Linked DNA regions of Homo sapiens. The protein of the gene in region 1 interacts with the protein of each later gene in a biochemical or structural test. Each region holds a gene or a part of one and is shown in the gene's direction. Other genes may lie near its edges. The genes, in order: PML, SATB1, ERCC6, CCNT1, MYB, ARNT and USP11.

Region 1 (4,342 bases):
ATGCACCTAGAGGAATGCTCTGAGTGAAAGTTCGTTGAGAGGAGGAAGTTCAAAGTAATTATATGACTTGATTTATTTCTTTCTTTTTTTTGAGACGGAGTTTTGCTCTTGTTGCCCAGGCTGGAGTGCAATGGCACCATCTGGGCTCACCGCAGCCTCCGCCTCCCGGGTTCAAGCAATTCTCCTGCCTCAGCCTCCTGAGTAGCTGGGATTACAGGCATGCGGCAACACACCCGGCTAATTTTGTATTTTTAGTAGAGACGGGGTTTCTCCATGTTGGTCAGGCAGGTCTTGAACTCCCGACCTCAGGTGATCCTCCCGCCCCGGCCTCCCAAAGTGCTGGGATTACAGGCGTGAGCCACCGCGCCCGGCCGATTTCTTTCTTTCTTTTTTTTTGAACAAACATCAGCCCCCAAAATTATTGTAGATATCTAGGTCAATCATTTAACATGTTCTGTTTCTTCCTCTGGGAAATATGTATAACGACAATTCTCACTCAAGGGGCTCTTGCAAAGGTTAAGTGGCATGGCTGACATGTGTCAAGTCTGTACCATCCTGCAAGCAGCAGCCCAGTCTGGCATTTGTGTAAGGCGGTTTCAGTGGAGAGATGTGTGGAAGGGTGCACCCCACGATGCTCACCTGGTGCTTCCTCGGTGGGGAAGGGAAATTCAGAAGTGGTGGAAAGAGATGATTGTCGTTTCGTATATCTTTGTATTGTTTCCCGGATGTTGAAATTGTTACTGTAGTAACTTTTTATACTCATGTGTTATTGGTAGTTTGGATACTATCACCATAACCACAAACACTGAATTAGGAAAAGCAGAAACCTAGAAACATGCCATGATTCAAAGTCTGGTATTTTTGGAAGAGGAATTTAATAACGAACGTTTTAAGAGGAAAAAGTCAGGAGAGTCCTAACCCAGGCCAACCTTGTGTGTCCACAGCATCTACTGCCGAGGATGTTCCAAGCCGCTGTGCTGCTCGTGCGCGCTCCTTGACAGCAGCCACAGTGAGCTCAAGTGCGACATCAGCGCAGAGATCCAGCAGCGACAGGAGGAGCTGGACGCCATGACGCAGGCGCTGCAGGAGCAGGATAGTGCCTTTGGCGCGGTTCACGCGCAGATGCACGCGGCCGTCGGCCAGCTGGGCCGCGCGCGTGCCGAGACCGAGGAGCTGATCCGCGAGCGCGTGCGCCAGGTGGTAGCTCACGTGCGGGCTCAGGAGCGCGAGCTGCTGGAGGCTGTGGACGCGCGGTACCAGCGCGACTACGAGGAGATGGCCAGTCGGCTGGGCCGCCTGGATGCTGTGCTGCAGCGCATCCGCACGGGCAGCGCGCTGGTGCAGAGGATGAAGTGCTACGCCTCGGACCAGGAGGTGCTGGACATGCACGGTTTCCTGCGCCAGGCGCTCTGCCGCCTGCGCCAGGAGGAGCCCCAGAGCCTGCAAGCTGCCGTGCGCACCGATGGCTTCGACGAGTTCAAGGTGCGCCTGCAGGACCTCAGCTCTTGCATCACCCAGGGGAAAGGTAAGCACGCACGCCACCTTCCTGGGCGGCCTGTGCCTCTGCTGCACCCTAGGGAAGGCGAGTCAGAAGAGATCATCTCCATTTGACAGAAAAGAAAACTGGGTGTTTATTCAGTCTTTGGGGGTTGGTAAGGTCTTAGGTTCCAGGGCACAGGATAAGGGGGAGATGAGGCCCTGACAAAGGGCTGCAGCCACCCAGAGGGGACACATTTTACTAATTTACAAGACTCTGTGGATTGACCTAGCGATGACTCATGGGGAACACGTGAAAGTTGAAAAACTGCAAAGCTGAGAATCAGACCCAGTATCATTTTGGCGCCAGAGGGACCAAGCACTTCAGGAGGTTCTCTTAAGCCACCGGTGTCTCGGAACAGAGAAGTCAATTGGGACCTGGGGTTACGGTAGAAGGGGGCTAAGAAAACCTCCTGGGGATGGTTGGATGCTTACCCAAAACCATACAGTGGCTCAGTGGAGGAGATCCCTTGTCTGCAGGATGACCTGCTGTCTGCCAACCTTTGCGCGCCCTGCCTAGTGTTGGACGCTTGAGAGGTAAGGAGACACAGACTAGTTTCTGATCTCAAGGAGCCAGAGCCACTTCACGTAGCTGGAGAATGAGACAGTGCTCAGCTCTGCAATCCAAATCCGGGAGATGTAGCAGCTGTGTATTAGCTGGAACAGGGGGGCTTTCAAAATAAGGGGTAGGGGGAGTGTGCCAGAGAGTCTCCAGGAGTCTTTGACTAAATCTCCAAGCTGGAATGTGAGCTCTGAGCAGCTAGTATAGGATGCCCTTACTGGGAAAGGGGAGGGAGGCTATGGAATCTGAAGGCACCTGGGTAGGGTGCCAGTGACAAAGAGCTTATTTACTTCTCCTGGAGCTGGACATGGGTCATGAAGGATAATCTTAGAGGGCCTGGACCTGTGCCTTCTCCACCTAGGTAGTGAATGTCACCCATATTAAGGAAATGACCCCACAGAGTTTACACAGCTTGCCTTGGGTGTTATAACTGGGCAATAGCAGAGAGAAGGGTTATTTTATTCTGAAGCATAAGAGATTTAGATTTAATAAAAACCAGGCTGCAGATAAGGAAGATCATGGAGCTCTCACTATATGTAGAGAGTCAGTGAGCCGGTAGTGATGGCTTTATGATTGCGCACACTTAGCCTTGCTGTTGGCTCAGAGATGGAGAGAGGTACACTTGGGGTTTGGAGCCAAAAGCAAGCACTCTAATGCCACCTCCTTTTCCCTTCTGGCTGGGTTCCTGCCCACTGCATTCGAGAGAGCTCTCCTTCCAGCTGCCCCTCCAGGGAGTTGTCCAGTGCTTTGGGATGCCCTGGAAAATAGGTATCCTGGAAAAGCAACAGGGACCTCCTCTCTATCACTGTCCCAGGTCAGGATGTCCCTTACCAGCATGTCCTTGACCTGCCTGTGACCTTCTTTGTGTTCTACAGATGCAGCTGTATCCAAGAAAGCCAGCCCAGAGGCTGCCAGCACTCCCAGGGACCCTATTGACGTTGACCTGGTGAGATGGGTTTGAGGTCTGAAGGGGTGGTGGTGGGGCCCAGCAGGTCAGGCAGGTTGTGAGTCCTGCTGTCCCTGTGTGTGCAGGGAGAGCGTCTGAGTGAGGGACAGCAAGTGGCTGGACTGGAAATTTCAGTGAGAGGAAGTAAAGGAAGACATTAAAGAAGGGTTGGCTGGCTAGCTGGCTCTGACTCTAGGCTCCTAAATGCCAAAGTTGCTCTTGATGGGCCATGAGCCAGGTTCAGTGGGGGTTAGATGTGGGGTAGACAGTCGGCCACAGATCAGGGCTGCTGCAGAGGGAATTCCAGCATTAGATGGCATATTAGTGCCTTCCAGCCATGAGAAACTATGGTTGTCAGATGTATGGTTAGATATAGGGTCAGCAGTCCTGAGGGATGTGCAGATGTCCTCTCCCCTCCTACACCCTACCCCCAATGTGGGAGCCTTCTCTTGGAGTCAGAATAGGTGGGCCTTCCCCTGCTCTTTCCCCACAGATGGTTCTTGGAAAGGAACGGGGAATGGTGCCAGGAGTCAGATTTCGATCCCAGTTGCCCGGGTTCTGCTGGTGTGATTCCAGGGCCACCATACATGTAACAAAGCAGACTGTCTCAGGGTTCAAGGTATCCATGTCCCATCTAATGCTGGCATTCCTTCTGCAGCACCCCTGACCTGTGGCTGTCCAGCTTTCATGTACACATCTCCAGGGACAGGAAGCTTGCTCATTCTAGAGGCAGCTGCTCCCAACTCTGGACTGCTCTGACTTAGAAAGTGCTTTTCCGAGTGGAAATGCAGTGGTGTCCCTTTGACTTGCCCCCTTTGGCATTCACAAGTATGGCTCCTTTCCACCAGAATAAGCATCCTCGGTTTCTTCCTGGACTTGGCATCTGGTCTCTTCCCTAGCCTAGTCACTCAGGTTTGCATGCGCCTAGCCTATCAAGGATCTGGCCCAGGACTGGCCAGTCCTTCATGGACAGCAGGTCTTCTGGTGGTGGGTAGGGGCCTAGCTTTTGCCATGGCATGACCCATAGGAGAGAGAGAGTGCTGTAGGTTGAGGCAATCAGGAGAGGCTTCCTGGAAGAGACAGGACTTAAGAGTCTCAGAGTTTTAGAGCCAGGCAAGAGCATGGAGTCTAACCCCCTTTTTTTCACAGAGGACGAAGCTAAGACCCAGAAAGGATGTGACTTACCCAAGGCTACACACAGCAAATTAGGGGCAAGATTAAAAGCTGACTCTGTTTTTTGTTTGTTTGTTTGTTTGTTTTTTAGATGAAGGCTCGCTCTGTTGTTCAGGCTGGAGTGT
Region 2 (4,342 bases), on another chromosome or scaffold:
ACATGACACGTTACCTTCCTTCCCCCAATATACCTTTAACTGTTTCTGCAGGATATTGGAAAGTAGATTTGCAAATTATATAGAAATCCTGACAAAATTTTATTCTGAAGCTGATACTCTGGCTAAGTGAAGAAACCAAATATGTCTTACTATTCCAAGCATTATTTCATGTACAAGATTAAAGAGAGAAGAGCTGCTTAGCCCTTATAAAATGAACAGAAAATTTTCCAATTCTTTTATTTCATATTGTCTCTTAAATGCAATGGGGAGAACCACCCATTTTTGAAAGAGTTCTTCCAAAAGTTAAAAAAATTAGTTGAAAATTGATGTTCTGTTATTTAGGGGGGAAAGACACCTTAAGAGTTTTCTAATGATTTATAAATTTCTTCTATCACTAACAATTTTTATTCCCCAAGAAATTTGATAATTACAGAATTTGATACTCTTTTCCTTGGCATGCTGTGATGGACTTTCGCAATGTTGAAAATTAGTTAATATATTTCAAATCTTGTCTATGGTTTTTAAAGTTCAAAATTTAAACCTGTTACCCAGTGGTATAATACAGCAAGATAGTATTTAGAATCATTTGTGATAATCAGTGAGGTTCTCTGAAAATGGTAAATTGAAAGGGTCACGTAGTGTCATGTACTTTGATAAGTCAGAGTTTAAGGAATAATTTTAAACATTGCCTGTGAAAATACAGCATAAACCTTAGGTGATGCTTTAGTAATAACCTTTGTTCTAATATGTTAAAATTCATTTTCTGGTATTTTCTTTGAAAGTTCTACTTCTCTAGAAATGGCTTTGTATCTTTACATATTGGGCTGTAGGCATTACACTGCCTTTGTCTAGGCAGCTTGGGAACTATACAGTTCAGTGCTGTTGCATTATAAGGATTTCGTTTATTCTTAACTTCCCTGGATCGTCTCTCTGTGAAAGATTTCATGGCAAGTTAAGCTACTCAAAGGAAGGAGACCAATTAGGCAGTTTCAGTTTATGTTATATGTAAAGCAGATGCTTAATAAAATTAAGAATACAATTGAGGCTCTCTTCTCTACCACTTCAGTTGTAACTAATATATTCCTATGCAGAATTAATGCCTCTGACTGTTCATTTTCTAAACAGAGTGGAGAAGAAAAGGGAAGGATCACTGCTGGCCAGGCAAAGCAAGGCAGCAGGCTCACCCTGTGCCTTTCATTTCTTGCAGGGCTTGCTTTCAGAAATCCTCCGAAAGGAAGAGGACCCCAAGACTGCATCCCAGTCTTTGCTGGTAAACCTTCGGGCTATGCAGAATTTCTTGCAGTTACCGGAAGCTGAAAGAGACCGAATATACCAGGACGAAAGGGAAAGGAGCTTGAATGCTGCCTCGGCCATGGGTCCTGCCCCCCTCATCAGCACACCACCCAGCCGTCCTCCCCAGGTGCGGTCTCCTTTTCCTCCTTGCCCTTCTTTGTTTAGCTTTTTTTTAATGCTTGAGGAAGAATCTCAATAAGAAATTAGATAGATAGATACATAGATTTATATGTTTTTAAATTCGTATAGTTGCTTGAGGAGAATTTGGTCCCAAATCATTAATTCTGATATAAAAACAATAAGCTCCTAATTAGATAGAGGGAAGAAAATTGCTTTGTGTTCCTTCATTCTTTGGGTTATTTGGGGGTGAAAGTAGTCTTTAAATGGGATATTTGTCTCTACTGTTGTTATTAAGTAAAGTATTTTAAACTCAATAGAAAAAGAATAAAGTCAGTTTTTTCCCAACTGGTTTCAGAATCGCCATTTGAATAGTAAATAAATAAAAATAAATAATTTCATTTGTATTTATACTTTCCAGTACGAACTGCAGCTGGTACCAATTACACACCATCTCATTTGTAATCTTTCATAATTAAGTTTAATAAAATCCTTGAAGGCAGCTTTAAATGGGGCTGATAAGGAATTCTATCCATACTCCAAGATACGGGCATGTTTTCTCTTTCTTAAAATTTTTGGACTTTTTAGGAAAGAAAGTTGCCTTCCGGGTAACTTTGGGTATGTGAATCTGTATTGTTTTTTAAACTAAGTTTTAAAAGTAACCTCATAACTGTTATAATTCAGTAAATCAATTTGCATTACAAACCCTTAGATAAAAGTTTGCTAGTTAGTGTATTAGACTCAAAAACCACAAGCAAATATATTATCTTTTTTTTTTTTTCTTTTGAGATGGAGTGCCGCTCTGTCACCCAGGCTGGAGTGCAGTGGCACGATCTTCACTCACTGCAAGCTCTGCCTCCCGGGTTCACGCCATTCTCCTGCCTCAGCCTCCCAAGTAGCTGAGACTACAGGCATCTGCCACCACGCCCAGCTAATTTTTTTGTGTTTTTAGTAGAGACGGGGTTTCACCGTGTTAGTCAGGATGGTCTCCATCTCCTGACCTCATGATCCTCCCACCTCGGCCTCCCAAAGTGCTGGGATTACAGGCCTGAGCCACCGCGCCCGGCTGCAAATGTGTTTTCTTACATGTTTAACTTGTGACATTTACAGCTCTTAAAAATAAGGTCAGTTAAAATTGGATAAAAATTGAACATGGAAGAAAAAGTCGAAATATTCATATGACAATCTCATAGTGAAATTGTATCTCGATTTTACTTCATTCTCATCAATGGTAGAAAGTGGTTATACATTTTCATGTATAGAAATCTAGAAAAAACTCATTCAACACTAAAGAGTGAAAGTACTACGGATACTGCATAAATAAGAAATATTTAGCCACTTGTTGAGTAGCTAAATAAACTGCTTATCATAAGGTTCTGAAACTATTACTTTTTAGAAATGTCACAAAATCCATTTTCACTAGTTTATTTAATGAAAATCAATCTGGTCTTGATGTCTATAGGAACAGACTATAAGGAAATCATTGCTATAATTGTGAATAAAAAAGTCATGCTTCTTTAGGAGAAAAGCATGGCATCTATATACGTATGTACACACCCACCTGCCCACGCACACAAAGTTATTGAATTTGATCTCTAAATGCTTCTATAAAATATTTCCTAAGATAAAGAATGAGGAACTCTTTATGTATAAAAAATATGACTTCTAAGTATGGTTAAAGAGAAAAGATAAACTATGACTTCTAGGAATGATAAAAAAGAAAAAATATACGAAATGAAATAAAATAATTTGGTTTGGTACTTTTTCTGTAGTGTTTAGTGTTAATACACACACTTTTATTAGTTAACTTTGCTCCTGAAGTCACCACTGACAGGGCTCTGAGCAGAGAATTACTTTACTTATCACTTAATCTGCAATACTAATAAAAGAATGGCTTACTTAAGACCAATATGAACTTCAACATTGAACTGCTTTAAAAAAAAAAAAAAACATCTAGCCAGATATTTGACTTTGTGGTTCCTTAATACAGCTTTTGTTTTCTAATTTTTCTAGGACTCTGGTTTTATTTATTTTCCAAATGTGATTTGGGTGTCCTTACTCATCAAGCTTTTTCTTGAGCTAAAGTTATACCAATTCTTATTAAGTGATATTTCTTTTCATATGCTGTTAAGATACTATAGGATAACTTTCCTGTATGTATGCTTAAAGGCTTTATCTGCTGATAAGTTGGGATAGAATATATGTTTAATTTATTTTTGCCTGAATTATTGGTTAACTGGTTGTGCCACCCTTAGCTGTATTTGTTTGTTCTGAAGAGGAGCTGAGACCAAGCCCATAGCTAGGGTATTCAGCCAATGATGAAAATATACAGTATATACATACTGTAGATTCTTAGTGAAACTCTTTCAAATAAAACATTTCTATTACTGCAGTATTACTGGCCATCTAACCAAACTCCAAAATGACTAACTGATATGTGTATGTGTGTGTAATTTTATTTTGCTGCTGCAATATAAATCTTTAAATTATTAATATTATTATAATGGAGATCACTACCAGTTTGTTCACATTCTTCCCTTTAACCATGATTAAATGAATTAAATTTTAAGAAATCTTAAGGTATTAAAGGTATTATCAATGCAAAATTAGTACTTTAGATTTGGAAAAACACGTTATAGAGCACTTGAATTAGTGCTGTCTTGTAGCAGTTGAAATAATGAAATGATGCTTAAACTGGAACCAGTATGCATATTAAAAATGAGTTAAAATAAAGGATAAAATGGAGAAAACCACAGATAACACAGACTGCAAAATTTTGTCTTTTTAAATTTTACATTTTGCCAAAGAGGAGTCCATGTGAAATCAGTATACATTTCATTTCCCCCAAAATGAGGAGATTTGAAACATATTTTGAGACAAATCTTGGGTTTGGGTTGCACCTGAAACCTGATTTCTTTCTAAAGAACCACAT
Region 3 (4,342 bases), on another chromosome or scaffold:
CCACTTCAGGTCCTAGTCTAACTTAATTATGCATTCTTGTCTTTAGCAGCTCTTTGATGGTTAGAGGTAGACTATTCAGAGGGAAAGTGCTTTAGACAGAATGTTGCTGAGAGAAAAACTGAGAAAAAACAAATTGCAAGTCATTGCAGTGTGGCATTTATGTTCAGGATTTCCCCTTGTCCCACACTCGTATTTGAAGTTGAAACATTCTTGACCTTGGAAAGATGAACCAGGTACCACAAGCCCAGTTCATTGGGCCTCCCCAGTGAAGCCCAAGGGCACATATCTGAGTTCTGGTGATGTGGAAGGGAACAAGACAAAGAGGAGTCTGGCGTGGCCAGGGTGGAGAGGCATGGCAAGATATATTTTTTTCTTAAAGCTTTTTGATTAGGTAGAATACTAAAAGGACAGTCATAAATATAGTAGGTTATCAAAGGAGACTAACTTTTTCAATTGAACATTTGTGTTTTTATTTCTTATCTTATGGCCTGTTGACTTCCATAGCCCATTGGTTCTGAATCAGAAATACAGAGTAGTTTAGGGATTTGCCCAGTGTGTAAGGGGGAAACCAAGTAGAACAAGTCCACCTTTCAGGTCAGTGCCCATGTATTTAAGGGCTCGGGCACATAGAAGGCAGTCTGCCGTCCTCAGGAGAGCATGGGGGTGCAGGCATGCCTGTCTGCTGGGAATATTCACGGCCCCTTTACTCCTAGAAAAGTGGTAGTTGCTCACATAGGGCTCTCTAGTAATAGTAATGTATGGAATTTTTATGTAATGTATATTATTTTTATTTTACTTTGGATTTAAGTTTAAAATTTCATAATGCTATCTTTTGTATTTAACAATAAATCACTTCATTGCTGTTTTCTGTCTTCTATATTTACCATTCAAGGAACAACAGCTAAAAAAGATCACTGCAAAACAAAAGCATCTCCAGGCCATCCTTGGAGGAGCAGAGGTGAAAATTGAACTAGATCACGCCAGTCTGGAGGAGGATGCAGGTGAGGATGCTAGGAGCAGTTTCTCTGTGTTCTTGAATTGATGCCTGATGCCTGTAGTCAGTGGAGGGTGTCTCTTTAGTCTTTGCCTGGGTTTTGAGAAAAATACGTTTCTTTGCCTTAGTGTCAAAACAGATTTAGGAAAATTTTATTCTCTACACCTGCAGAACCAAATCCCTCTCAAAGAGAATTAAAGTAAACTTTTAACTCAGTTCATAGGAGGCTGCTGGTACACATTTATTATTACATTTAATACACTGGAAATCTTAAACATTCTTATTTTGTTAATTTGATAAAGACAACTAGCATCATGATTAAATTACATGTTGGAAGCCCAACATCATTAATCGCATTTGTAGAATGGCTCTCACGTGTCTTTAAAGAGCGTATTTGGCAGGCTTTCCAAGCATCAGTTTAAGAAAAGACATCTTCATTCAGGTACTCTGGGCAGTATTTCATTTACATTACTGTCTTGGATGGTTGTCTTTTGGAAAACTTTTTGGGAAAATTCGTAAGCTCTGGAACTAAATTATCTTTGCAGTCATTGTGTGTGTGTATGTGTGTGTGTGTGTACAAATTGTTGGTGGCTGCATAGGCATTGACTATTTGAAATACAGATTAAAGCTGCTTAGCATTAAATTCTCTAAGCAACTATTTTCTACTAGCTTTAGAAGTTTATTCAGTAAGATGAGAATTGTTATGAAGAATTAATTGAAGCAATAGAAAAAAATATGTATATTTTTGAAACAGAGTTTCGTTCTTGTTGCCCAAGTTTGGAGTGCAATGGCACCATCTCAGCTCACTGCAACCTCTGCCTCCCGGGTTCAAGCGATTCTCCTGCCTCAGCCTCCCAAGTAGCTGGATTACAGGCGCATACCACCATGCCCAGCTAATTTTTTGTATTTTTAGTAGAAACAGGGTTTCACCATGTTAGCCAAGCTGGTCTCGAACTCCTGACGTCAGGTGATCTGCTCACCTTGGCCTCCCAAAGTACTGGGATTACAGGTGTGAGCCACTGCACCCAGCCCAAAAGTACGTGGTTTTAAAGTTCAGCCTCTCAGAATTCATTAGGCCTATGACCAGTGCTTTTAACTGCTGTGTACTATGTTTCTCATTGATAACAGATGTTTGTTCCTGTCTGGCCGTCTCAGATCTGCTGTTGTCTTTCACCTCCTACTGTGACTTTGGTAGTAGGGTTAATAGCTACCTCTTAGGGTTAATAGCTAAAACTTTGGTAGTAGGGTTAATAGCTACATTGTCTAGGGTTAATAGCTACCTCCTCAAATCCAAGAGCCCCTTTTTATCCTTGTTCCACTCTGCCTGTCCACAGCAGCTGACACTTCTGTTCCTTGTGGGATCCCTGCTTCTCTACTGGTTTTCTTTTTAGCCCTCTGACTACTTCTGCATAGTTATTTCTGGCCATATCTTAAATATTGATGTTTCTCAGGATTTCTTTGAGCCCTCTTCTTGTTCTACTGCCTCTCCCTGGTTATCTATTCCCCATGGCTTTTGCAGCCACCTAGGTTCTACTAGTACCTTATACAGATCTGTAGACATCTGGCTTTGCTCTTTTTTTGAGTTCCTGGTTCCTATTATATCTCTCCGTCTGGACACCAGCCAACACTTGAAGACATGAACTGAAATTGGAAGTTACACCATAACTGTAAAGTCACCCAGAAAGTATCCCTCTTTCATTAGTTGAAATTCATCTCCGGCAAAATTACCACATAACCAAAATACCAAAAGACCTAAGGCTTAATAGGAAGCAAAATACTCAGTGTAAAGACCTAAGGCTTAATTGAGGCAAAATACTCAGTGTAAAGGAAAAGATTTGTTAAATGGACTATATATAAAACCAAGAACTTCTGTTCATCAGAAGATAGCATTTAGGGCAAGATACTGAGCTGGGGAAGATATTTGCAATACATGTGTGAATCAAAGGACTCAAATCTAGGATGTATAAAGAACTAGAAATCATTTAAAGAAACAGACAAACAAAAATGGGCGAAAGACTGGAACACTTCCTACACAAAAAAGGCTATCCAAAAGATAAATTCATGAAAGGCACCTATTTTGTTAGTCATCAGGGAAATGTAAATTATAGCCATAATGTGGTACCACTACACATCTACCAAAATAGCTAACATGGAATGGCAAGAATATACACCAGTTGGAACTTTCTGACACAGTTGATGGGGACTTTGGAACGTAACACTTTGGAAAACTGACAGTGTCTACTAAAGCTTAGCATACCCAGATATATATATATATATATATATATATATATATATATATATATATAAAAATATATAAATATATAAATATATAAATATAAATAAAACCAAAAGATGTGCATCAGAATATTCATAGCAACATTATTCCTAGTAGCCAAAACCTGGAAGCCACTCAAATGTGCATTAACAGTGAGAGTTAACAAACTACAGCTACATTCAACAGTAAGGATGCAGCTCAAAAGCATAATGTTGGGTGAAGGAAGGTGGACACAGGGCACAAACATTTCCACTTACGTAGCGTTCAGAGACAGGCACAACTTGTCTGTACGTTAGGAGTCCAGGTCCATCATTATCTTGGGGGGCGTAGAGGCTGGGAGGTAGCCTGAAGGGCTCATCTGGTGGTGCTAGTAATTCTGTTAGTTGATATGGCTGCTAGTTTATGAGTACATTTTTTCTGAATATTCACTGAGTTCTACACTTAATGATTTGTGCACTTTCAGATGTATGTTTTATTTCAGTGCAAGTTTAATGAAAAACTGGGTATCATTGGCCTGCAAGAATTGTAGATTTTAGAATATGGATTCCTTCCTATTAAGCCTTAGGTCTTTTGGTATTTTGGTTATGTGGTAATTTTGCCAGAGATGAATTTCAACTAATGAAAGAGGGATACTTTCTGGTGACTTTACACTTATGGTGTAATGTCTTCAAGTCAGTTAACTTCACATATCTAACACAGTGCTGCTGTCCAATAGACCTTTTTGCAGTGATGAAAATGTTCTCTGTGTTGCCCATTATAGTAGCCATTAGTCACGTGTAGCTCTTGAGCACTTGAAAAAGGGCAAATGCAACTGTGGAACTGAGTTTTTAACTTAATGTAATTTAAATTTAAATAGCTGCAGGTGACTGGTAACTGCCATGCTGGGCAGCATAGAGCTGACATTTATGTTTTTCCTTTTTAGGTACATGGTGATCCCTGTTTTTGGTTTTACTGTCTCTTGAATTTAAGTCCATCTGAATGTTGGTTTTAGCAATGACGTGAGAACTTCGGAGCTTGCTTCCTCATGGACGACTACTCAGCTGATAAGGAAACACAGCTAAACTTGACTATTT
Region 4 (4,342 bases), on another chromosome or scaffold:
TATATATTTATTTTTTAGAGACGGGAGATCTCGCTCTGTTGCCCAGGCTGGTCTCAAACTCCTGGCCTCAAGCTGTCTTCCCACCTCAGTCTCCCAAAGTGCTGGGATTGCAGGCATGGGCCACTGCACCTGGCTAGTATAGGGATATTCTTTTGGATGTCATGACCTTTTTCAAAATCCACTGATTAATTTGAAGTTGTTGATCCTTTTTAGAGGATTGATTTTAGGCACATTTTGGAATCAACAGATTCCAGATTTAATATCACCTTTTAACATACTAATTCTAAGTTTAGCTGTGATGAATCCAAATTTAAATGTGAGAGGACTTAATACATTAAATGTGGCCTAATAATCAATGTGGCATTGATATGTTATATATCCTGTCAAGTCCTCAGGCATTTTTGTATGTGTGTGTGTGTTTTTCTTATTACAAAGGTATTAGAGGCTGGGCGTGTTGACTCAGGCCTGTAATCCTAGCACTTTGGGAGGCCGAGTTGGGTGGATCATTTGAGGTCAGGAGTTCGAAAACATCCTGGCCAACATGGTGAAACCCCGTCTCTATTAAAAACACAAAAATCAGCCGGGCATGGTGGCGTGCACCTGTAGTCCCAGCTACTCACTTGGGAGGCTGAGGCAGAATTGCTTGAACCCGGGAGGTGGAGGTTGCAGTGAGCTGAGATCGTGCCGTTGCACTCCAGCTTGGGTGACAGAGTGAGACTCCATCTCAAAAAAAAAAAAATGAAGAAACCCAAAGATATTATAATAAATTCCCATGGTAAAAATTAAGACAGTACAGAAATGTATGTGGAAAGTGAAAACTACTCTGTAATCCCACCCAGAGATAACCATTGATAAATGTTTGGTTTATAGTGACCCAGACATTTTTCTGTGCACATAAACTAGCATTGAGGTATTTTTATTTAAAAAATCATATCTTGCTATGCTACTGTTGCACAGCTTGCCTTTATCATGTAACAGTATGTATTGGACATCTTTCCATACTTCCCTTTATTATTTTTTGGATTTCTTATTATTTTAATTTGCCACATGGTATTTGTGTAGTTACTGTAGTTTATTTAACCAGCTTTTTATTGATAGCTATTTGGGTTGTTGTTCTAGTTTATTATATTGTACATTATGTTTCATGGGATAGTCTTGTACATATATAGTGCACTTATATAAGCATTTTAATACAAGTTCCTATAGGTGGAATTGCTGTGCCCAGAGTATACAATGTATAAAAATTTTTGTAGTGTCAGTTTGCCCTACTGAAAGATTATACATTGTTTCCAGCACTGTAGGTGAGGGTCCTTTTCTTTCCACCCTAACAAACAACAAATATTAATTACCTCAAGAAACATTTATCTAGTTCTTTGTTTTTGAAACGGAGTCCCCTCTGTTGCCCAGGAGTGCAGTGGTGCCATAATTTAGTTTAGTTTTATTTTGGTTTTATTAGTTTATGCCATACTTTTAGTTTCTAATAGGCTTAAAACCTTAGTCTTTGACTTGTCCTTTTCCCCTTTGTTCAGTTAGTTATAGTCCCCCCCAACCCCAAGATAGGTTTTTACTCTGTCACCTAGGCTAGGCTGGAGTGCAGTGGTACAATCATAGCTCACTGCAGCCTCCATGTCCTGGGCTCAAGTGATCCTTCCACCTTACCAAGACTACAGTGCCACCACGCCCAGTGAATTTTCCTTTTGATTTTTTGTAGAGATGAGGTCTTGCTATGTTGCTCAGGCTTGAGCTCAAGGGATCCTCCTGCCTTGGCCTCCCAAAGTGCTAGGATTATAGGCAAGAGTCTGCACCCAGCCTATAAAGTCTTGCTAATTTTATAATGTTACCATTTTTTCCCTCTCCTTATAAATATGTACTTTTTAAATTATCAAAAAATTGGAAGAGGACGGACAGGAAATAAAGAGATAATCCTGTTAACATTTTAGAGTATATCCCATTAGAATTTTTTCTTTGTATGCAAGTACATGTACATATATTTAGTGCAGCCCTATTAGTTTTACAAAGTGATGCCTGTGTTTCTTTTTTCCTTTATTTCTACTGCTAGTGTCTAAACTTTTTTTTTTTTCTTTTTTTGAGACAGAGTCTCGCTCTGTGGCCCAGGTTGGAGTGCAATGGCGTGATCTTGGCTCACTGCAACCCCCACCTCCTGGGTTCAAGCGATTCTCCTGCCTCAGCCTCCCAAGTAGCTGGGACCAAAGGCGTGTGCCACCACTCCTGGCTAATTTTTGTATTTTTAGTAGATATGGAGTTTTACCACGTTGTCCAGGCTGTTCTTGAACTCCTGACCTCAGGTGATCTGCCTGCCTTGGCCTCCCAAAGTGCTGGGATTACAGGCGTGAGCCACCACGCCCGGCCTACTCTAAACTTTTTAAAATTCTTTTTTCTATATTTTAAAATAATTTTTAAAAAACAGAGACAGGGTCTCATTGTGTTACGCAGGCTGATCTTGAACTTTGGGCTCAAGTGATTCTCCTGCTTTGGCCTCCCAAAGTGCTCTAAACTTTATGTCCTAATGCCTAAATTATTATTTAAGTTAACTTTTATTTTATTTTTTGAGACAGTATGGCTCTGTTGCCCAGGCTGGAGTACAGTGGCATGATCTTGGCTCACTTCAACCCCTGCCTTCTGGGTTCAGGCAATTCTCCCGAGTAGGTGGGACTACCCTACTACAAGACTCCTGAGTGGTGGTGTGTGCCACCACGCCCGGCTAATTTTTGTGTTTTTAGTAGAGACGGGGTTTCACCATGTTGGCCGGGCTGGTCTTGAATTCCTGACTTCAAGTGATCCGCTACCTCGGCCTCCCAAAGTGCTGGGATTACAGGCGTGAGCCACAACACCCAGCCTGAATTAACTTTTAATGTATCCCATCCTTTTCTCCTAGTTTTACCTACCATCAGATTACTCCTTCTAAATATTACTTTGTTTTAAAAATTTATTTTTATTAATTATCATGGGTACATAATAGTTATATACATTTATCATAAACATTTCTTAAACGATATTTTTCAAAATCTTTAGTGTCACTCTTGTTAAGAATCTTGGCTGGGTGAGGTGACTCACACCTGTAATCCTAGGACTTTGGGAGGCAGAGACAGAATTACTTGAGCCCAGGAGTTTGAGCAGCCTGGACAATGTAGGGAGACCCCATCTCTATTAAAAATAAAAATAAATTAACTGGGTGTGGTGGCGTGTGCCTGTGATCCCAGCTACTTCGAAGGCTGAGATGGGAATATCTCCTGAGCCCAGGAGGTTGAGTGGAACTGTGATTTTGACGCCACTGCACTGCAGCTGGGTGACAGAGTGAGATGCTGTCTCAAAAAAAAAAAAAAAAGAAAGAAAAAAAATCTAGTGTTCCACATCCGATTATCTAATGTATTTAACTACTCAGTTTAGTATTGAAAATGTGCTTTACGCCTAGATCACCATACCTTTGTTCATATCCATTTTTCTCTGATCCTGTTTTGTTTATCCTAAAGTCTGAGGAATATATATGTAGTATGCTTCATATTCATCTGAAACAAATGTGAAGGAAAAGAATCACTGTGTTTACTTAAAACAGTTTTTTCCGTATGTGTATGGAGATGGAGTCTCTCTCACTATGTTGCCCAGGCTGGTCTCGGACTCCTGGGCTCAAGTGATCCCCCGCCTCTGCTTCCCAAAGTGCTGAGATTATAGGCTTGAACCACTGTGTCTGGCCTAAAAAAATTTTGTTTTAAATTATTTTTGTCTCCTATGGTCTTGTCTGAAATCAATACTATGAGTTGAATTTGTGGAGAAAAACTTACTCTAGAAAAGTATAGCATAGGTGACATCAGGGTTACAAATAAGTATTAGAATATCAGTTCTAGTCAGTAAAATGAAATATATATTTAAATTCTGTAAAATTATTTATGTATTTCTTTGACTCCTGGTGAAATACAGCTCTTAGCATTACTATCTTTGAGTCACTGAAATGTTCTTAATATTCAAGAAAAGTTCTATTTCCTGAAGTTTCCAAGATCACCAGGCTACATTTATGTCATATTGCTTTAATCTTTTATAAAGTTTGTTATCTACTTTTATATTGACTTCAATTTTTCCCTCTTAATGCTTTCTATAAATAATGTCTTGCATATAATGCCATGCTTTGTATTTTTGAAAGGTTCGATATGTATAAGTAATTGAGATATAATTCACGTACAATGAAATTCGTTTGTTTAAATTATATAGTTCACTGGTTTTTAGTATATGCGCAAAATTGTGCAACCATCAGCACAGTCTAATTGCAGAACATTTACATCACCCCAGAAAACTCCTCACCTATTAGCAGTTATTCCTATACTCCTCT
Region 5 (4,342 bases), on another chromosome or scaffold:
TTTCCAAAGACAACTAAAGATTTCTACAGTCTCTCTTATAACTGATCCATTTTTTCAAAAGATGTCCCTTTGGGAAGGAATTCTCATTTTTAGAATTTTAGTCCAGAGGAAGTATTTTTTTTTCAGATAGGTGAAATAGAATAAGCAGAAAATTCTTATTTTTTACTGTTTTATATACCATTGATGCCTGCTTATTTTAAAACAAAACACAATAAAAACATGATACCATCTGATGAGTTGCTTTGGTTTTACTTTTTTTTTTTTTTTTTTTTTTTTTTTTTTTTTAGTTTATACAAGTTTCTTATTAGGTCAGCAAATTGTAAAACACATAATTTGCCAAGGCTTTTGAAGCCAGCAGATACTGGGTGAAGTTGCTGTATGAATATAATAATAAGAACCGTTTTTGTTCAGCTTGATGAAAAAACTATTCATGTTCTAAATGAAAATGTGAAGATCATCTAATTCTGACAGAAAACCACCTGTGGACATGGTCTTGTTTCTTTTTATTTCTTCTGTTTTCTACAAAAGATGGCAATATTTATTTAAAGTGCTTTAACAGGATATCCCAGTTAAAGCTTTGACAGACTGTTTATAGTTCACTTCTGCCCAGGGGCAATTAAAGGCACATTACAGGATAAGCGAGATGACTCCCCGGCCACAGGAGGAGGATGTGTGGGTAGGATTATTAATGTTGAAATGAATTATGATAGAGTGACATGTCTGCAAGAGCACCATGGGTTAGTAACTTAACAAGAATTCATATGCAGAAACCCATAATTCTCAGCAGTTCTTTAGGGTAAATGAAACTAAAGTTTAGGGAGAGAGAACAAGGAGAATTTGCAAAGATATGTATGACAGTATTTAAAAATGTTCTTCCAGCACAAAGACATTAATCTTCCTTTGTCAAAATAATTCTTTCTGCATGAAAAGTTGGCATGGGGCTCCCAGGCTTCAGGTAAGATGGGAGAAAGGGAGCGTTTCTTTTTTTTTGTACCAAAGTACTCAATCTTCTGATCTTCCTTGACTTTCACGACATAGGCATATGTCTACTCTGACCAGTTTGTTTCATTTATTGTGGTAAGATGTGCTTGTCTTGTGCTTTCCTGGTGCAGAAAAGGAGCTGCCTCGCTCATGCTTGGTGGCCTTTTTGTTCCTACACACAGTGGTTCTCGTACATGGTGGCTACCACATCCTGGTGTTTGTCTATACTGGGAGAATCAGGCGTTCCAAGTCATCTTGGCTGCCCTAGCTCTGAGCTTCAGGGGATATATGACTCAGAAATGCTATGCTTTCTGGAATTTGGATATTTCATTTTTATTTGTTTCTTGGTAAATTCTCTTTTGACTTAGGAGAAGCTAACTATTTGGAAAGGTCTCTCAGAACTCTAATTACAAATATATGGTACCTTCTTTATATTGATCTCATTTTTAAATACCTAGTCCTGGAGGAAGAGCTAAATATGAATACAGTGATGAGCTGTGTAGGGGATCTCACAGGAACACAGTCAGATTTCAAGTTGAAAATAGATTCAGTTGATAATACTTAGTACTAGATTCTCCTGAATCGACTTTGGGAATTCTGAGTCAACCTAAGGACTATATTACAAAGGATCAGACCTTGACTTTTAGGCCAGGTGTAGTGGCTCATGCCTGTAATCCCAGCACTTTAGGAAGCCAAGGCAAGTGGATCACTTCAGTCCAGGAGGTTGAGACTAGCCTGTGCAACACAGCGAGACCCTGTCTCTACCAAAAATACAAAAATTAGCCAGGTGTAGTGTAGCACCTGCCTGTAGTCTGAGCTACTGAGGAGGCTGAGGTTGGAGAATCAACTTTAACCCCGGATATGGAGGCTGCAGTGAGCTGTGATCATGCCAGCCTGGGCAAGGAGCAAGACCCTCTCTCAAAAACGAAAACAAAAAAGACACAGAACTTGACTTTTAACAGGAGGCATAGTAATAGCAAGCATAAGATTGTTTTAACATAGCATTTAAGATAATTTACGCATTTAGAAAATTAATTCTGGCTGGTTGTAGTAGCTTATCCTTAATCCTAACCCTATGAGAGGCCAAGGCAGGAAGATCACCTGAGGCCAGGAGTTTGAGACCAGCCTAGGCAACATAGCGAGACCCCCGCTCTCTACAAAAAATTTTTTTTAAAAAACATAGCTGGGCATGGTGACACACTCCTGTAGTCCCAGCTACTCAGGAGGCTGAGGCGGGAGGCTTGCTTGAGGCCAGGAGTTTGAGGGAGCTGTGATCACGCCCCTGCACTCCAGCCTGGGCAACAGAATGAGGCCCTATATCTAAAAAAAAGAAAAATGGACAAGAAAATTCTATATTGATTGAAGCCCAGCTAAATAGAAAAAAAAAAATTCTAATAGGCCATTTTAAAGACTTTGGAAAAATTCTTAGCTAGAGTAAAACAGAAGCAATCCTTTCTTTCCTGGTTCTCACATCTCCATTCTCACCTTCATTCCCCTTCCCCTCCATTTGTTTCAAGTATTTTTCTTTTCTATGTGTGTCTTTATGTAAATTTAAATTTACCTACAAGATATTATGATATTAAGATATTTCATTCTGCTTCCTGTTTTGTCACTTGTTCTTTAAGATCCAAGTCCTTGGCTCCATGTGCATCTAATCCTTGCCATAAGCCCTGCATCGTACTTCATATTCACCATATTGAACTATTCACCCTCAAGTAGTCACTATTAAATGTCACACTGTTGTAGCGACTACAAATGCAAGCTCAGTAACTGAAAAGATAACATTAAATTTTGTTTTTTAATTGGTTTCCTGTGTCAATTTCATGTTTCGGGAATTTGTATGGACAGATAGACACCAGAGAGATATGCGTATTTCACCTGCATGCTTGAGGCTAGAGAAACATGATTTATTCAGAACTATTTCAAATACTGTAACTAACCTGGTAATTTTGTTTAGGAAAACATTAAATTCGGAATAGAAGGCAATTCAGAATACCTGTCTGTTATCTTTGTCTTGTCATTTTTGAGATACTCAGTTCCTGGAAAATATTATGATAATCCATCTTGCTATGTAGTATTTCAAGTTATATGTTGAGCCTCTGAGCTTGCAGAGTGAACATTTCTATTCATAGACAGTGCTGTTGACATCAGTGGGGAGATGGCACAAGCTTTGTGCCCTAGGAAAGTTTAAAAGCTAGAACATTACACTGCAAACCCTATGTCAGGAAACTTTGTTGCAGCAACTAGGCAAGGAAACCCTACCACTGTACCCATACCTTGTTTTAGTAGAATTATGTTTCTTTGCTAAGAAGTCTGGTGACTCTCACACCCCATCTCAGCACTTTCCTGGATTCCAAGGCCCTGGTGCCCTGAGCACACAACTTCCCAGGTTCCTTTTATTGTTTCTGATAAGAACTCGAATTAGAGGCAGCGTCTGGTACTCACCAGGGGTGTGGTCCCATGGGTGACATTCTTGCTCCATCATTTCTTACCCAGGTAACCTTGAGTATGGCGCCTAAATCCTCTCTTCCTTTCAAATTGCCTGGTCTGTAAAATGGATGCAGTGAATGGTAGCTATGCCACAGGTGTTTTGTGTGAGAATTAAATGAGAGGAGTTATATCAATAACACTTAGAGGCATGCGGTGCCTATAGTGAGGGCTTGTTTTATGTTGTCGTTTAACCCTTTCTTTCTCAGCCCTCCCCCACTCCACATCCCCTCCCACTGGCAATGTACAAATTGCAGCTTCCTGCCTCTTTCCTGCTATCTCGCTCCCTGGATGACATCCCTGCGTTTCCACCTCTCTCTCCCCTAATCTTAGCTGTTTTCACCCTTTCCCCACAGCATTGCCTTGACAGTTCCTCAGTGTCCCATCCCCTCTTCCCATGGACAACACCACAAACCTGCGCACACGGCCTGTTATTATTCCTCCTGTTTCACCTGTGTCCATTCTGTCTCATAAAGGACACTGTAGGCTCTGAACAGCTAAGGCCTTTCTTATTCTTTTGTCCCATGGAAAATAATCCCTCCAGATAGCAATACCAGGAATAGTGCCTTTTCTAACCCACTGGTTTCCTTTTGAGCTTACAGCCACCAAATCTTATATCTGTTTGTTTCTGTTCCCCTCTCTGCATTGACTGCTAGAGAGATCAGAGTCAAGCAGGAGGTTACATCTAGCTGGGGCACTGTGCTTTATGCTGGTGTTTCGTGTGCAAATCTCATACCATCTTCATGTTACAGTTGTTCCTTAGTGTCCATGGGGGATTTGTTTCAGAACCCGCAAGGACACCAAAGTCCAGGGATGCTCAAGTCCCTGATATAAAATAGCATTGTGTTTGCATATAATCTACACACATCTTACC
Region 6 (4,342 bases), on another chromosome or scaffold:
TAGTAGAGACGGGGATTTCACCATGTTGGCCCGGCTGGTCTGGAACTCCTCACCTCAGGTGGTCTGCCTGCCTTGGCCTCCCAAAGTGCTGGGATTATAGGCATGAGCCATGAGCCACCCCGCCTGGCCTGCATATAATACTTTACTGTTATGAATGCCTCTAGTTTTATATAACTTCACAGTTTATAAGATGCTTTCATTTAATTCTTACAATTTTTATTAATCCCATAGTTCATTGCTTTTTTGTAATTTTATCTCAGCTGCCTAAAAAATAGTGTCAAGAGAGATTGAGAGTTAATTGGAAGAAATATACAATAGGAAATAAGTGATGAGCTTGGTTCAGAAGGATGCAGTGATTGACAGTGTTGACTCTCATAGGCATGGTATGTGCAATGATGTTAATGCTGTATTTGTTCTATATCCCCTCTCCATCTCTCTTTAGCAGGTGGCTACCCAGGCTACTGCTAAGACTCGTACTTCCCAGTTTGGTGTGGGCAGCTTTCAGACTCCATCCTCCTTCAGCTCCATGTCCCTCCCTGGTGCCCCAACTGCATCGCCTGGTGCTGCTGCCTACCCTAGTCTCACCAATCGTGGATCTAACTTTGGTGAGTCCAGACCATAAGGAGAGTAACAGGAAAATCGCACCACTAAAGAGAAAGGATTTGGTAGTTAAAGTTGTTTGCCTGTGTTGTGGGTACACTGACCTGATTGTAGGGAAATGCAAGGTGACAATCTATTTAGAATTTAAAACCTACCAGCTGGGTGCGGTGGCTCACGCCTGTAATACCAGCACTTTGGGAGGCTGAGGCAGGCGGATCACTTGAGGTTGGGAGTTCAACCCCAGCCTGACCAACATGGAGAAACCCTGTCTCTACCGGGTGTGGTACCGCATGCCTGTAATTCCAGCTACTCGGGCGGCTGAGGCAGGAGAATCGCTTGAACCCAGGAGGCAGAGGTTGCGGTGAGCTGAGATCGCGCCTTTGCACTCCAGCCTGGGCAACAAGAGTGAAACTCCGTCTCAAAAAAATAAAAAATAAAAAAAAAAAACTACCCACATGAAAAATACTTTAGCACATATAACAAAAATCATGTGAATTTTTATACATTTAATAGTATGCACATTTAACCTAAATGAGTAAAGAACTCTATGGAAAGGCTGCCTGGAGAAGAAGAATTAATTTAGGGCTGAGTTTTGAGATAGAAAAGGCATTGATTGGCAGAGAGAAGGACAGAGTTATCCTAGGTAAAATTAATGGCTTACCTATAGTTGTTTACTTGTGGCATTAGTACACAATGGAATTGTGTAGATTGGAGTTGTTTATTCTTCCTTGCTGTATTTCTAGCTCCTGAGACTGGACAGACTGCAGGACAATTCCAGACACGGACAGCAGAGGGTGTGGGTGTCTGGCCACAGTGGCAGGGCCAGCAGCCTCATCATCGTTCAAGTTCTAGTGAGCAACATGTTCAACAACCGCCAGCACAGCAACCTGGCCAGCCTGAGGTCTTCCAGGTAAGAGAGTGAAAAGACTTTCAAAAATTAGAAGCTGGGAGAGAAAGGGTCCAGGAGGAGGAGAGACAGTGAAGGAAGCATGCCTGGATTGAGGTGTTTGGTTGGGGGTATATGTGAGAAGACAGAGAGGGATAAATGTAGGGATCACTGTCAGTTATTGAAAAGATTGCAGAAGCTAGATGCAGTGGTGCTTGTGTATATGATGTCAGCCCCTTAGAAGGCTGAAGCAGGGGATCACTTGAGGCCATGAGTTCAAAGCCAGGCTGAGCAACTAGCCTGATCCTGTCCCTGTCAAACAAACAAAAAAGGAGTATGAATTGAGTGTGATACATACCATTTAACCAGAACAGACAAATTTAGCACCATAGGAAGATGCCAAAGAAAGTTACTTTAGCTCATTCAAATAGCTCCATATACCCAAGTCACAGTAGCTTTGGGTTTAAAAGAGACAGAATGATTAAAAATAAAAAGTAGTGCTCGCTTCAGCAGCATATATACTAAAATTGGAATGAATATAGAGAAGATTAGCATGGCCCCTGCGTAAGGATGACACACAAATTCATGAAGTGTTCCATTTAAAAAATTATAAAAAGTAAATGAAATAGAACATAATGATTATAGCCATAATGGTCTATTTACACAAGTCCTGAGGGACTGCAAGAGTGAATGGAGTAATCTTAGGCAGGACAAAGGAAGAGCTGGTTTAAAGCAAAGATTGAAAGAAAGCAAAACAGGTCTTGGTGGAAAACAAATAGGATAAGAGACTCCATATATGTCTATAGGGGGTTATATGAAATACAGCAAGCAGATTTTTCTCCCTTTGAAAATATTGAGAACTAGGAAAAGGAAAAAGGTGGAACTGTAGGAGGAAGACAGAAGGGATTAGGAAAAAAGGCTGCGATCTAAAGGAGTCAAAGTTGTTGGAAGTAAGGAAGGCTAAGAGCTCAGCACAGCAAAGACTCGGGGTCAGGGATGGTAGTGCAGGGGAATGGTGGAGTAGAACTTGGTAAGTGTAAGAGATCAAGGTGTGTGACCCAAACTTAATCTTTTTCTTTTATCAGGAGATGCTGTCCATGCTGGGAGATCAGAGCAACAGCTACAACAATGAAGAATTCCCTGATCTAACTATGTTTCCCCCCTTTTCAGAATAGAACTATTGGGGTGAGGATAAGGGGTGGGGGAGAAAAAATCACTGTTTGTTTTTAAAAAGCAAATCTTTCTGTAAACAGAATAAAAGTTCCTCTCCCTTCCCTTCCCTCACCCCTGACATGTACCCCCTTTCCCTTCTGGCTGTTCCCCTGCTCTGTTGCCTCTCTAAGGTAACATTTATAGAAGAAATGGAATGAATCTCCAAGGCTTTTAGGACTGTCTGAAAATTTGAGGCTGGGTGAAGTTAAAACACCTTTCCTTATGTCTCCTGACCTGAAATTGTATAGTGTTGATTTGTGCTGAGATCAAGAGGCAGGTTAGAAGAACCTGACATCCACTGTTTGCCTTGGATAGTATGGCTTGTTTTTGGAAAGAAATTCTGAAGAGAGTGGAGGAGAGGAGAAATGTCCTCATATTTGAGGACCATGAAACATTGTAGGTATATATGGGGCTTTAGCAAGTTTGAGCATAGGCTCTTTTTGCTGCCTGTGAGCAGTCCCTCTGGAAAGAAACATGTGAGTAAGTGAGAGAGAGTGTGTGTGTATGTGTGTGTGTGTGTGTGTGCGCACACATGCTTCTGTATTTCACTCTTTCTCCCTATTAGGGAGTTATGCAAAATTTGTCCCCGATTTTACCTTTGTCTTTCTGTGTACTTTTCAAAGAGTCCTAAGGAGTTAAATCTTCCAGGTATTTTCCACTTAGTATTGCAGCCAAAGAATATTTAAATAAACGTCTTTGCTGCGCTTGCATCCATGCCCAGCCAATATACAACTGTAAAGCAAATATAGAAAGTCGGCTGTTGATACGATTGTCTGTTATCGAACACATTCAGTGATAAAGCTGGGTTACTGCTGCTTTTGGTGCTCTCACCTTATCTGGAAGATCTGCAAACATTACCTAAATAGGCTGGCAAGATAAACACTTTCTGGAACCCGAGACTTGGCCATAAAGATAATGCTGCATTTTTCTGTCAGAATCACATATGATGTGTGTTCTGTAGAGGTTATTTCTGCATGGAAACTCAACTTCTTGGATTAGCCGTCCCAGTGAAAATCCTCATTGTTGGAGTGTAAACCAAATACGAAGCCCTCTTGCAAAGTAGCCTCTTTCATCCCATACTCAAAATACCCAGTTTAGCAAGCAACTGAGATTTAAGTCTCTCTGGCCCTAAGAGGTTTTTCCTCTTTGCTCCCTCCAATCTTGAGATTGGGTTTTGCTTTAGAGTGCAAGTATCATAATTCCGTATGATAGATGGGGCCTGGACACCCATCTCAACAGGGTCACTTGGTAATTAACAATAGCCATATAAATGCGGATACAGGTTACTACCCTCACCCTTTACCTTCCTCAGGTAACAGTCGTAGATACCAGCTTTTTTTTTTTTTTTTTTAAATTGGCTTTGGCCAGTAGCTAAAGTGCAAGACTGAATTAATGAGAAGATATATTAAATGTAGTCATAGGGGACTGAGGAGCAAGGGTGGCCTTGAAGAGGCCAAAGGAATGTCCATTTGCTGAGTTTCCCTTCCTTATGTCTCCAGTCTGGTGCCAGGTAGTGGAGTAAAAAAGGAGACAGTTTATTTTTTTATTCTATGTGCACACTTACAGTATACATATATATTTATATCACAATTTACGAAACCAAAAAGTTGAGTTTCCAATGGAACCCTTGTTTTTTAATAATCG
Region 7 (4,342 bases), on another chromosome or scaffold:
TGAGGTTTACTCACTACAGAGTTCTTTAATAACCACACCAGTGAAATGTGTATCTCTGTTACTGGGGAGATGAGTTGAGATTTTCCAAATCGGGAATACAAACCCAAGCCGTGTTTTTCTGCCATTACGTCACACTTTTCCAGCAAGAAAAAGCCTCATTTCATCCTGAGAATAAACAAAATAACCACAGTGTTTTGTAACTCATTTGAAGATGTTCAAAAGGGCCTTGAGGCTTTGATCCTTGCCTCTTCCTACCTTTGTAGCCTTGTGATTGTGTCACTGGTAGGACATGACATCCTGTCATCCTTGATAATACGCTTTAAAATTACCCCACCAGTACTGGGTTTTCTTTTGGGATGATGAAATATTTTGGAACTAGGGAGAGGTTGTGGTTGTACAACATTGTGAATGTTCTAAATGCCGCTGAATTGTTCACTTTAAGATGGTTAATGTTATGTTATGTGAATTTCACCTCATTAAAAAAATTACCACACCAGTGTTGGTTCAGTGTTGAAGCCGGTTTGTCTCTGCTGTCATGGGTATTATCATGAAGCATTTTTGCTAAACTCCACTTTGTTAATGCTTCTCTAGTAAGAGCAAAGCATCTCAAGGTTCTTTATTGCTGTCCATTTTCCATTTTACAGGGGTTTGCTTAAGTGGCCAGGATATATGTGTTTATAAAGCATTTTGAAGTCATGGACTAACCCCAAATCATATATCTTGTATCAGTATTAATATTTGCACCTTCTGTCTTTTGTCAGCTGGCAGATTTGGGTGAGGGTAGTTAATTAATTTGGTCATCACAACTGATTTAATTTCTGGGAGAAGCTTGTATTTTAAGGCAAATTCAAATCTGTAATAATATAGCCTCCTTGGAAATTTTCACTTTTTCCTTTTGTGGGATGAACCATCTTCAAACACAAATCAGACACAAGAGAAAACTAGAAGACAGAAAATAAAGAATTGTTTAGCAACTTTTTTCCATAAGCACATATTTCATATCATTTCAACAAATTTGAGGAAGCACGAATAAACCTAAGTGACTTTAGCAAGATCAGTTGTACCTGTATATACTGGCAGCAAGAAACTAGAAAATTAAAATTTATGATACCATTTATGATAGCATCCAAAAAATTGAATACCCAGCTGTAAATATAATAATTTGGGTGTTATTGATACAGACCATGACACCTTTGTTGTGACTGCCACCTGGCCTGACAGAGATTGTGAGACATCCTGATTTCAGAGATGTTAACAATGATTTTTTTAAAGTGTCTTTGACTTGAAGCAATATGGTAATAATTTTCTGTGAAAAATTATGTAAAATGTCAGTCCTCTATGAAATCTATAGAAGTTCAGCCTGTGACCAGGTCTGGAAGTTTTGCTTACCACTCTACAGCGTGATTTTAATGTTATTTTTTGTTCAAAATCTGCTCTTAAAAAGAAGTTGAGCAGTGCCTACCTTTGCATTGGAAGGTACTGTTAACTATAGCTTTACTGAACAAATTAACTTCATAGACTGGCTATGGAGGCAAGTAAAGCCACAAAGGGTGGATGGTGGTGTGTGGGGTGCAGGGTTGGGTCTGAGCATTGAGCCACCGGCACAGAAGGGTTTGTTTCCCTGGTGTGAGTGATATGGGGCAGGGTCTGTGGGGGTCAGTGCAGCAAAAAAACAAAACCAACAAAAAACCCACAGAAATGTTTGCCTATCTAGGTGACTTGTGACTATTCCAAGATTTGTCTGTCCCTCCATCCTCCCACCTCTCTGATCCTTTCATGAACAAGGGAAAGTTGACATTTTAAAGAATCACATTGATGAGGTTAAATTGGGAGAATCGCTTGAACCCGGCAGGCAAAGGTCGCAGTGAGCTGAGATTGTGCCACTGCACTCCAGCCTGGGCGACAGAGCAAGACTCTGTCTCAAAAAATGATAATAATAATAATGAGGTTAAATTGCTTGAAAACCAGCCAATATAATGTTATGTGCATTTCATCAAATTTGGTTATTTTTTAAAAAGCATTTATTTGAGGCTGCTCAGTATTTGGGATAGCCTTTTATGTGTCAGAAATGCCACAGCAGAACAGGTGTGTGTGTATGTGTGTGTGTGTGTGTGTGTGTGTGTGTGTGTGTGTGTGTTTAGGCAGGAGGAGGTTTATGTCTGTGAGCTTTTATGTCCAAGTCCTGAAGTCCAAGCTGTCAGAACAATGACAGCTAAAATTCATTTAGCACTTATTATATGTCAAGTATTTTCCAAACTTCAGGATTTCTCACAAAGGTAGATTTCAATATAGTTCTAAATGGTTATCCTTGTAGTACATATAAGTTTCACCTTTAAAAGAGAGCTAGTTGAACTGTATACTGAAAAATGCTTGATGGTAAGTTTTATGTTACATGTTTTTATCACAGTTTTTAAGAGAACCATAAGCTCAGGAATTTACTATAAAGCCAAAGTAAATTCTAAATTAAAAAATGATGAACAATAGCAATATGCAGTTCTTTTTTTTTTTTTTTTTTTTGAGATGGAGTCACTCTGTCGCACAGGCTGGAGTGCAGTGATGCAGTCTCGGCTCACTGCAACCTCTGCCTCCAGGGTTCAAGTGATTCTCATGCCTCTGCCTCCCAAGTAGCTGGGATTACAGGCACGTGCCAGCACACCTGGCTAATTTGTTGTATTTTTTAGTAGAGACGGTTTCACCATGTCAGCCAGGCTGGTCTTGAACTCCTGACCTCAGGTGATCCACCCGTCTTGACCTCCCAAAGTGCTGGGATTACTGGCGTGAGCCACTGTGCCCGGTCTTTTTTTTTTTTTTTTTTTTTTTTCAGTATGCAGTTTTTGAAGGAAAACCTTATGATTCTTTTTAGCATTTTAAATTCTTTGCTCCTTTTAAAAGCAGATTTTTCACCATTTATCAAATCTAGTTCTTAGCTGAAGAATTATGCTTCCATTGATAGATCCTTTAGAAACAAACACATAATGAATGGCTAAAGCCTTATAAAATTAGCTGCAGATGGCACATATCTTGAGCCTAACTTAACTGGGTTATCCCACAGACTAATTCAAATGAATCATCTTTTATTCTATAATAAAACCTCATGTTTCCTAGCACTATAAGTATGGATTTTTTGTTGGTTTGTTTGCCATTGTTAACCACATTTTCTGTTTTTAATCAGATTTCTTTTTTAATACTAAGAAGTTATCTAACATACAAATCTGAGTTTCACTGAATAAATTTTGCTTCGAATTTATTTTTATATGATGCTGAAACTTTTCATCTTAAATTATAATGTGTCAATACTTTCAGTCTGTTGGGCATGGGAAGTTGTATAGCTAACCCTCAGCTACCCATGTAACACCCTTGTTACCTGTCTGGGCCCCAGGTTCCTTGTGGAGAAGCACTGGTATAAGCAGTGGGAGGCATACGTGCAGGGAGGGGACCAGGACTCCAGCACCTTCCCTGGCTGCATCAACAATGCCACACTCTTTCAAGGTACAAGGCCTTTGCCTCCTTCTCACCCTAGCCCTGGAGTTCTTGTCCCTTCCGTCCCTACAGATGATCATAAGCCCATTCTGTGTGCTAGGTCACTGGTGGGGTGGCCAGAGTCATTCGTCAGTTTCCTTTGTTGATTCTTCCTCTGCCACCTCCACCCCCGCCCCACAGATGAGATAAACTGGCGCCTCAAGGAGGGACTGGTGGAAGGCGAGGATTATGTGCTGCTCCCAGCAGCTGCTTGGCATTACCTGGTCAGCTGGTATGGTCTAGAGCATGGCCAGCCACCCATTGAACGCAAGGTATAATGGATGGGGAGGGTGCATGGCGGGGAGTGCGTAGTAAGAAAGCCTTGTAGGCCCAGCATGGGTACAGATCCATGTATGCTGGGTAGGTACACATATGTCTGCTCTCTTCCCCCTCCTAGCTCATCATACAGGTATCTTTGTCTGCTGTGTGTGTTCCCCTGTGTGGCTCTCTTTACAGACCATTGTATATGTGTGTTTGTATGCTATGTTTGTAAGGCAGAGTGTGTGCTCCTCTCATTTGAGAGGTCACAGCGCTGTGTCTGTGTGAGTACACCTGTGTCTGCACCCCTCTACTCTTACAGGTCATAGAGCTGCCCAACATCCAGAAGGTCGAAGTGTACCCAGTAGAACTGCTGCTTGTCCGGCACAATGATTTGGGCAAATCTCACACTGTTCAGTTCAGCCATACCGATTCTATTGGTGAGTCTAAGGGTCACGCAATGGGTTGGTGTTCCTAGCTACTAGTCCCAACTCAGTGACTTGAGGTTGCATAGGGTTAAGCTGAAGCTGACTGAGAAGGCACTGGTCAGACTTTGGAAGACCCA

The links.
Region 2: the proteins of PML (region 1) and SATB1 form a complex in vitro, tested with the Homo sapiens proteins (one study listed by BioGRID).
Region 3: the proteins of PML (region 1) and ERCC6 form a complex in vitro, tested with the Homo sapiens proteins (one large-scale study listed by BioGRID).
Region 4: the proteins of PML (region 1) and CCNT1 form a complex in vitro, tested with the Homo sapiens proteins (one study listed by BioGRID).
Region 5: the proteins of PML (region 1) and MYB form a complex in vitro, tested with the Homo sapiens proteins (one study listed by BioGRID).
Region 6: the proteins of PML (region 1) and ARNT form a complex in vitro, tested with the Homo sapiens proteins (one study listed by BioGRID).
Region 7: the proteins of PML (region 1) and USP11 form a complex in vitro, tested with the Homo sapiens proteins (one study listed by BioGRID).

Annotation. Positions count from the first base shown.
Region 1 is NC_000015.10:74,021,884-74,026,225, forward strand, and holds part of PML (protein PML), read left to right. Parts: intron 1-944; coding exon 945-1,525; intron 1,526-2,973; coding exon 2,974-3,044; intron 3,045-4,342.
Region 2 is NC_000003.12:18,383,477-18,387,818, reverse strand, and holds part of SATB1 (DNA-binding protein SATB1), read left to right. Parts: intron 1-1,207; coding exon 1,208-1,420; intron 1,421-4,342. UniProt on the Homo sapiens protein: Crucial silencing factor contributing to the initiation of X inactivation mediated by Xist RNA that occurs during embryogenesis and in lymphoma.
Region 3 is NC_000010.11:49,525,076-49,529,417, reverse strand, and holds part of ERCC6 (DNA excision repair protein ERCC-6), read left to right. Parts: intron 1-892; coding exon 893-1,001; intron 1,002-4,342. UniProt on the Homo sapiens protein: Involved in repair of DNA damage following UV irradiation, acting either in the absence of ERCC6 or synergistically with ERCC6. Involved in the regulation of gene expression.
Region 4 is NC_000012.12:48,706,293-48,710,634, reverse strand, and holds part of CCNT1 (cyclin-T1), read left to right. Parts: intron 1-4,342. UniProt on the Homo sapiens protein: Regulatory subunit of the cyclin-dependent kinase pair (CDK9/cyclin-T1) complex, also called positive transcription elongation factor B (P-TEFb), which facilitates the transition from abortive to productive elongation by phosphorylating the CTD (C-terminal domain) of the large subunit of RNA polymerase II (RNA Pol II).
Region 5 is NC_000006.12:135,211,973-135,216,314, forward strand, and holds part of MYB (transcriptional activator Myb), read left to right. Parts: intron 1-3,426; exon of another isoform or gene 3,427-3,528; intron 3,529-4,342. UniProt on the Homo sapiens protein: Transcriptional activator; DNA-binding protein that specifically recognize the sequence 5'-YAAC[GT]G-3'. Plays an important role in the control of proliferation and differentiation of hematopoietic progenitor cells.
Region 6 is NC_000001.11:150,810,340-150,814,681, reverse strand, and holds part of ARNT (aryl hydrocarbon receptor nuclear translocator), read left to right. Parts: intron 1-442; coding exon 443-605; intron 606-1,343; coding exon 1,344-1,510; intron 1,511-2,571; coding exon 2,572-2,661; 3' UTR 2,662-4,342. UniProt on the Homo sapiens protein: Required for activity of the AHR. Upon ligand binding, AHR translocates into the nucleus, where it heterodimerizes with ARNT and induces transcription by binding to xenobiotic response elements (XRE).
Region 7 is NC_000023.11:47,235,691-47,240,032, forward strand, and holds part of USP11 (ubiquitin carboxyl-terminal hydrolase 11), read left to right. Parts: intron 1-3,379; coding exon 3,380-3,489; intron 3,490-3,660; coding exon 3,661-3,791; intron 3,792-4,099; coding exon 4,100-4,217; intron 4,218-4,342.